Homo sapiens: one gene and its partner. The protein of the gene in region 2 purifies or fractionates together with the protein of the main gene of each other region. This does not show direct contact. Each region holds a gene or a part of one and is shown on either strand. Other genes may lie near its edges.

Evidence for each region. Proteins that work in one complex are often made in the same cells at the same time.
Region 1: the proteins of BBIP1 (region 2) and BBS7 purify together in Homo sapiens (co-immunoprecipitation; one large-scale study listed by IntAct). This does not show direct contact.

Annotation. Positions count from the first base shown.
Region 1 is NC_000004.12:121,828,675-121,832,474, forward strand, and holds part of BBS7 (BBSome complex member BBS7), read right to left. Parts: intron 55-3,800; coding exon 1-54.
Region 2 is NC_000010.11:110,908,440-110,913,580, reverse strand, and holds part of BBIP1 (BBSome-interacting protein 1), read left to right. Parts: intron 1-5,141.

The DNA of each region.
Region 1 (3,800 bases), on a different chromosome or scaffold from region 2:
TTTAGGATGGAGATAGTAGAAATGTTGTCAGATTTAAAAACTCCCTCTCCTTTTCTATAAAATTAATATATTTTTTAAAAGAATAGCTGTAGAAGGAAATTGTCCAGTACATATATATTTTATGATTAGTACTTAGAGTATAGATTTCATTTGACTGTAGATTTCTTCTGTATACATATATCATTAATATAAAGCAAATTTAAACATGTAATCCTTTACTGTTATATTAATTCAGCTTCTGAATATACTCGTAAAACTAAACAAGATATATGCCTCCTAAAGATGTGACAATTTATATAAAAACTTCATTTAAACAACTTTTATCTTCATTTTTCACTAATATTTCCAACAGCTAGTCTCATATATAGACATATATAAAATGCACTTAGAATTGCTTACTTACATAAGTATGTTTTTCTTTCATGTAATCACACAAATTACAGTGTGACTATATGCTTTATCCTTAAAAGAAATCTGATATCAAATATGAAAGAGTGACATCTGCTGTTTTTCATGCTCAGCATCCAATGCCACTGCTTATGGTCAGAGGACCATTATTTTTCTTTTTTTTTTTTTTTTGAGACGGAGTCTCATTCTGTTGCCAGGCTGGAGTGCAGTGGCGTGATCTCCACTCACTACAACCTCCACTTTCTGGGTTCAAGCGATTCTCCTGCCTCAGCCTCCCAAGTAGCTGGGATTACAGGCACATGCCACTACACCCAGCTAATGTTTTCGTATTTTGAGTAGAGATGGGGGTCTCACCATGTTGGCCAGGATGGTCTCGATCTCCTGACCTTGTGATCCGCCCACCTTGGCCTCCCAAAGTGCTGGGATTACAGGCATGAGCTACTGAGATTACAGGCGTGAGCCACCACGCCCGGCCAGGATCGTTATTTTTCTTTAGGGTACCACTCCTCTTTCTCTTGCCCTCTTCAGTTTCAGTGGCAATGGTCTCAGTCTATTTCTGGGACTTCAGGAGGAAGCATTGAGCAGTACATTCCATACCCCTGACCACAGTGGTTCATGGCTTAACAATGATACTCAATCCTGGGACTTTTATTGGAGCCAGTGGGCAAGAGAAGCTCTATAGCAGCTGAAAATATGTAAGACTGGATTCTAGGAACTGCTGGTGGCCATAACACTGCATGGTAAAGCCAAGAAAAGATAAAAGCAGAACTGAACAAGGGATAAAATCTTGATGACATCAATTAAGCCACTGATCCAGTTGTGCGTGAGGCAGATTACTGCTAGACTTTTAAGTTATGTGAGCCGATAAATTTATTTTATTTGGTTAAGCTGCTTGCATTTGGTTCCTTTTTACGATGACCAAGTTTCCTAATTAATATATATCATCTTTCATATAGTTAATGTTACCTTTTCATTTGGTTTTCACACACACACAAATGATGTATACCAACTAGCTATATGCAAATGATAATTGCTTTGGTCCGTTGTGGTGGCTCACGCCTGTAATCCCAGCACTTTGGGAGGCCAAGGCGGGCAGATCACTTGAGGTCAGGAGTTCGAGACTAACCTGGCCAACATGGTGAGACCCGTCTCTACTGAAAATACAAAAATTAGCCAGGCGTGGTAGCACACTCCTAAAATTCCAGCTACTCAGGAGGCTAAGGCATTAGAATCACTTGGGCCTGGGAGGAGGAGGTTGCAGTGAGCTGAGATTGAGACACTGCACTCCAGCCTGGGCTGATGAGTGAGACCCTGTCTCAAAACAAATAAAAAAAAAGATAATTTTTTTTTCTAGAAAGATAAATAATACACCCTTACTACTTTGATCTCAATTATGTTTTAGAAATCATGACATTTCTATTAGTCTTTAATCTTAACAGATGATATTTAGTAAACACATAGTGCCAGGTACTATAGAATGACTCAAATGGTTATCTTCTTTTAATCATCATAACAATTCAATAAAGTAAGTGCTATTATTTTCATTCCTCAGAAAAGAAAACTGAAGTTCAGAGAGTTAAGCAACCAGCTAGGGTCACACAGCTGGTAAGTCACAGAGCCAGGATTGAAACATTAGTACATCTGCCTCCAAAGCACATACTTCTACACTACCTCCATACACATATATTTTATTCAGGCATCCGAAAAACATCTGTTGAGTACCTATTATGTGCAAAACTATGTTTTAGGTCCTTGCAGGCTACATACAAAGATATTTAAAATTAGACTGTCCATGAAAATAAAGTTTAACTTAGAGAAATAAGTTTGTATAAAAATTATTAGAGGCCGGGCTTGGTGGCTCATGCCTGTAATACCAGTACTTTGGGAGGCTGAGGCAGGCAGATCACGAGGTCAAGAGATCAAGACCATCCTGGCCAACACGGTGAAACTAGTCTCTACTAAAAATACAAAAATTAGCTGGGCGTGGTGGCACATGCCTGTAGTCCCAACTACTCGGGAGGTTGAGGCAGGAGAATCACTTGAACCCAGGAGGTGGCGGTTGCAGTGAGCCAAGATCGTGCCACTGCACTCCAGAATGGCAACAAAGCAAGACTCTGTCTCAAAAAAAGAATAAAATAAAAAATAAAAAATTATTATATACTTTAAGCAGATAACAATAAATATCACAGACAAGTAAGAAAAAATGCTATGGAAACAGAGAAGAGAATCAAGGGAGAATCAAAGAAGGCTTCAAAAATGTAGCTACTGCAGGATGCAGTAGCTTGCACCTATAATCCCAGCTACTGGGGAGGCTGAGGCAGGAGGATTGCTTGAAGCCAGGAGTTTGAGACCAGCTTGGGCAACACAGTGAGACTCTCTTAAAAAAAAAAAAGTAGCTATTAAGTTGGACCTTAAAGGATAAACAGTTTTGAATCTTAAGAAAAAATACTCAAAGACACAGAATGATAAAAGAGCAAAGGTCTGCTATTATAAAAGTATATAATATGCTAGGGGCATGTTGAATTGTCTGCTATGATTAATGTGTGAGGTTCATTGTGGTACTTCAAAATGGGAGTAATTATTACAGGTTTAGACACAGATAAGCTTCCTTGGACGGTACAGTGAAAAACCTCCACAGAATGGATGTTAAAAACCAATTAGATTTCTGAAGAGTTCTTGGTTCTAAAAGGCTGAATTCTGAGGTAAAATTATGTTTTTAGAATAATACTGTTATTATCCTAAAATAACAAGAGAAGCAAGAGGTATTCTACTTCTTGCTCTCTAGTTGAGACTTTACCATGCTAAGTTTTTAGAACTTAGGAGAAAACCACAATAATCTGCTTAGGGAAAGAACCTTAAGAGGCAGAGGCAGAGAAAGAATAATGAGCTCTCTCCCAGACAAATAACACAAAGCAAAAAAAACAAAAACACACACACACACACACACACACACACACACACAAAACAAACAACCTACAGGCCAGGTGTGGTGGCTCACGCCTATAATCCCAGCACTTTAGGAGGCCAACGCAGGAGGATTGCTTGAGCTCAGGAGTTTGAGACCAGCTTGACCAACATGGTGAAACCCTGTCTACAGAAAATAAAAAAATTAGCTGGGCATGGTGGTGCATGCCTGTGGTCCCAGCTACTCAGGAGGCTGAGGTGGGAGGTCAAGGCTGCAGTAAGCCGAGATCATGCCACTGCACTCTAACCTGGGTGACAGAGTGAGATCCTGTCTCAAAACAAACAAACAAAACAAACAGCAACAACAACAAAAAAACAAAAACAAAAAACAACCTACAGATGTGAGAATGAGAATGCAAAGACTTTGAAGAAGCAGGAGGATCCAAGCTTAATGGGTAGAGGTAGAGATATTGGCCTTGCCCAAGAAG
Region 2 (5,141 bases):
TTCTCAGCTTTGAGTTCTATTATGAAATAGGTTTGCTTTATTATCATACTTTTTAAAACATTTAAGAACACAATTTGGCAGCACGTGCTGCTTCAAAAGTAAGTAAGTGAAACAGGTTTTTAAAGAAAAGCACCTTTAAATAGATCATGCTGTCTTATAGGTACCATGATATTTATGAAGATTCAAAGATTTTTAGAGACAGAAGATACCTTATGGTAATCTAGAACAAGTCCTTTATTATAGCAATATGAAAATTAGTCCTGGAATAATAAATGTCATACTGTATTTCTAAGGACTTTTACATCCACTTATCACTTGACCCTTACAACCCAGGACAGATAATAAACATGTTTTGTATGAGAAAACCAAACCTCTGGTTGGCTAAGAAATGTATTCAAGGTCACACAGCTAGTTAGCGGCATGGCCAGAGTACAACCATGTACCCCATTTAAAGTATAAATGTGAAATAGAGTACAACTAGTTAGCACCAGAGAGCAACCCTGTACTTCATTTAAAACATAAAGGTGAAATAGATTGATTAGAAAGAAATGACAGACTCTAGTATAAGCTTCTGTTTTATTTAGGTCACACATTGGATTTTACTGTCATAGTTTATTTAAAACACACGGAATCCTAGGATATGCTCAAGGATTCTATTTCTAACTTTAAAACTGGGGTCTGTACAATTAGCATAAGCTGATAAGTTTAGATACATTAATAGAGGGAAAAAGGAATTACATTGAAGATGTAGTGACAGGTTAGGAGTAGTAGGCACATATTATGGAAGATAAACACATAGACCCATGGAACGGCTCCTTGGGGCTCCCAGCAAAGATCAAATACTAGATTAAGGAGACTTAGTGTGGGGAGGACAGTTTTAAAAACATCCGAATCCCATCCTGAACATTTTTAGAAACCAAGACTTGACTTTGGCATCCACAATATGTTTTCATTTTGATGTTTCTGATCCATATGTATACGTTATGAGTAATCAGGAATGCAGTTTGAATTTTAGTAATTTAGTCTCCTTCTCTGTCTGTCCACTGTGTGACCACAGCTTACATTTTCCAGATGGCTAGATGAAAATAGGTGCAGTCTAAAGCTAATTGCCCTCTTCAGCTGTTTAACCCAAGATCAGTATCTTCTCATGAGTTGTGATATAAGCTGTCATATAATTTGTGATATGATGAAAATAATTTAAAAATGCAAAATTTGTAAGCTTTTAAAGTGTTGTATATTTCTAATTAAGCTTAGGATTTGAAAGTTTCAGTGACATAGTGTTTAAATAATATTTAATGCTATAAACAAAATCTAGAGTCAAAAAGCAGTTTTTCTTCCTAAGAGATTTATTTCAGAATGGCATCAAACATGACAACTGGAATGCTAAATCCTCAAATTAAGAAGACCAAAAAAAAAAAAAAAGAAAAGAAAAGAAAAGCTACATGTTGGTTAGAGCCATATATTGGTCCGACTGTGACACAGTTCCCAAACTATAGAGGAAGAAATGTGCTTTAGTCAATATGCTGCGCTTATTTTTTCGTCTACCTCATTCCTGAGATTTACTGTTTGCCTCATATTTTATTTTCACCCTCCTTTGTAAGGGTTATTAGTGTCTTCAAAATTTCCCATTTCAGTAGAAATTGAAGATTGTATGTTACTTCAGCCTTTGTTGGCTTCTGCACACCATAGTCTACGATTATCTCTCCACCATCTTCTTAAATGTTGATATTCCTTCAGTGAAGCACCGTACTAAACCTGCTTGGGATCTCCCTATCCTACAGATGTAGCATAGAGAAAACTGAAAAGAGACCTTGCCTTTGAGTAAGGCAGACCCGAGTTCAAATCCTGTTTCTTATCGACTATATGATGTTGGACAAGATAACTCTTCTTAAACCTTGTTTTAGTCTGTTAAATTTCATCATATATATATGTGTACCCAATATATAATTTTACCCATGTGCCCGTTCACCTCCCGCTGCAACTGGGAGATGCAGTGGGAGGTGGATGGGCACATGGGTAATTCAATTCCAAAATCACCAGTTATGGTGATAAAAGTTTTTTCAAAATTACTGCAGAAAATTCCTTAAAATATCTACTTAGTTGAAATACATGCATGACTTCGTACTAAACACTGTGTTGCTATTGTTATTCTTAAGCAAACTAAAATTTAAGAGCCACTAGGCTAACTAAAGGAAAGAAGCTAAGGTAAATGTCCTGACATTTAAACAAGTCTGCCTTTAATATAACTCTTAAGAGTATGGGTATTGAGAGAAGAGGTGGAGAATTCTAAAATATTTTTGCTTGCCCATAGGTTTTTCATCATGCATTTTTAGTAATAAGCCTCTATAACTAATACATGTTAATAAGCTTATTTTTTCTGAAAATCTAATTTTATGCCAACATTATAATGGTACACTATGGTAAGAATTGCTGACATTCATTGAGCTCTCATGCAGGGTTTGGTCTAATGGCTTTATATGAATTATATCTTTAATGCACCAGCCATCTCAAGTTGATGCCATTGTAAGCTTTATCTTGCAGTTGAAACGAAGGCTCAGAAAATCAAGTAATTTAAGTGACTAATCTGACTTCAGCTGCTTCTTTCAACCACCACACTAGACCCTTGTCTCTTTTTACCATCACCCCACCACTTACCATTTTGCCATATCTTTCTTGAGTGATTATATCCACCTCCGTAGCTTGTACTACTGTACAGTTGACTCTGGGCCTTCAGTCCTTTTTACCTTCCTCTTGGACTTCCACACTCTGTGAATCTAAACCGAACTCATGGTCTTTACTATTCCTTCTCAACCTTCTCATCTGTGTTTCCGGTATGAATTAATATGGGTATATCCACAATCATGTTAGCTCACTTCAGTCGTCTGTGATCATTTCCTTATCACCCACTGGCAGTGGGGGGTGGGAAGGTGGAGGATGTTTGAATCTCAACTTCTTGTACCCTTAATTACCTCATATCTTCTCCTCTTAGTGTCTGTTATCACTGCTTTAATTCATACTTTCATCATCTTACCTAAACAATTATAGCTTCCTTACTAATCTCCTTTCCTCTAGTGTCTCTTCTCATTTTTCCTTTATTTTGTCTAGAATGTGTTTCCAAAACATGAATCATGTCATGTAACTGCTTAGAACCATCCAGTTAGCTCCCTCCTGACTATAGGATATGAAGTCCAAATTCAGCGTTGCAGACTGAGTGTGAACTGGCCTCCAGCTGGTCAGTCCCACCACAATACCTGGTGCACACTGTATGCACACTGTACACACACTGCACTCTAGCCATGTCCTCCGACAGAACACTTTTTTTTAATGCTTCTTCATTTGAACGTATTTTTCGCTTTGTCTAGAACATCTGCCCCTTGCTATACATCTCCTTCTCTGCCTAGTAAACCCCCATTCAGCTTTCTGGGACTAGCTCCAATGTCATGTTTAATAATTCTTCTTCAGAGACCACCCGTTGTCCCCTATCCTTAGCCAAGTTTTTCATGGTTTTCATTTCTTAAGGCACAGTAGGCATGCTTTTATTAAAGTACATTGTATTCAATTATAATTATTTACATGTGTCTCATTCCCTACCTCACCTCCACCAAAGAAAGAAACTGGTTTTTACCTACTCTGTCTCTCTCACTTAGCTACGGCTGGTACATTATAGACATTTAGTATGTTTGTTGAAAGAAAAAATCTGTTCGTATAGGTACTTTATCATTCCAAATTATTTTTATGTTACATTTGTTAGTTTTCTACTCTGAAAGAGTAATGCTTTTGTTGTCACCTAAAACAACATCATTCTCATGTTTATCACTCTAGTCTTTACTGTCCAGTGCTTATTTCCAAATAGAATACAAGGTACAGCATTAATTTGGCCTATTAACTCACAATTTCTGTCCACTGTAAAGATTTATACTTTCTTGAACAGAGAACTAGGAGCTAGGCTCTTTTCCCAAATATGTAATAGGTGTGCAGGGAAGATCTTAGCGAAGGATTCTGTCTTTTTCTAAGACTTTCACTTGTAGGTCTCCTGCAAGTCCACAACATTTAAGTTCAAAAGATGACATAAGAGCCAACCTTTTCTGGCCGGGCACGGTGGCTCATGCCTGTAATCCCAGCACTTTGGGAGGCCAAGGCGGGTGGATCACGAGGTCAGGAGATCGAGACCATCCTGGCCAACATGATGAAACCCCATCTCTACTAAAAATACAAAAAATTAGCTGGGTGTGGTGGCACATGCCTGTAATCCCAACTCAGGAGGCTGAGGCTGGGGAATCGCTTGAACCCAGGAGGTGGGGGTTGCAGTGAGCCGAGATCGCGCCACTGCACTCCAGCCTGGTGCCAGAGCAAGACTCCGTCTCAAAAAAAAAAAAGGCCAACTTTTTCATAACAAAATTATATAAATCTTAGTCTTTACAGTTTGAAGTTGTTTCTGTGAAGATGCTTGCCTGATTAATGGAAAATCTGTTGAGGGTATCATTGTTTTGCTGGCCTGAGTTAATCACCACCCCATCACAGCTTTTACTTAAATCTTGTCTTTCCCTAGCTTTATGATTTCACAGTGTAGCTAGGTGCTCAGTTGAAGCACCCATTTTTCACCTGCACCTAAACTATTTGAAATAGCCCTGTAATTGTCCTCCTGAATACATTTTAGATCTGTTCAGGTCATTCTCATTCTTAAAATATTTCAGTGGTTCTCCTTATTTCCTTCAAAATCAATTTGATTGCAGTTTGGTTAGGGTTTGTTTCCAGACAGATTGCTCGTAACTCTTTTTTTTTTTTTTTAAGCATTCCTTGCCTCCCCCATAATGCACCATGTGCTTTGTGTTGCCTATCTTCATGCCTCTGCACAAACTGTTGTTACCTGCACCTAAAGTTCCTCCCCCATCATCTGTACCTGACACAATTGCTCCCTATTCTGTGTTCCCATGGCATTTTTACAAATACTTCTAAGTATAGAACTTATATTGCATTATGCTTCTTCGCTTATGTGCCTGTTTCTTCTCCCTCCACCCCCATCCTTCAGGATCCTCAAGCCTAGAGACTATGCCTTAGTAAGTTTGATGCTGAATTAAAATTTCAATATAAGATGACTTGCTATTTGAATACTTCAGTTTTGTTCTTAACCCTTTCTTAGT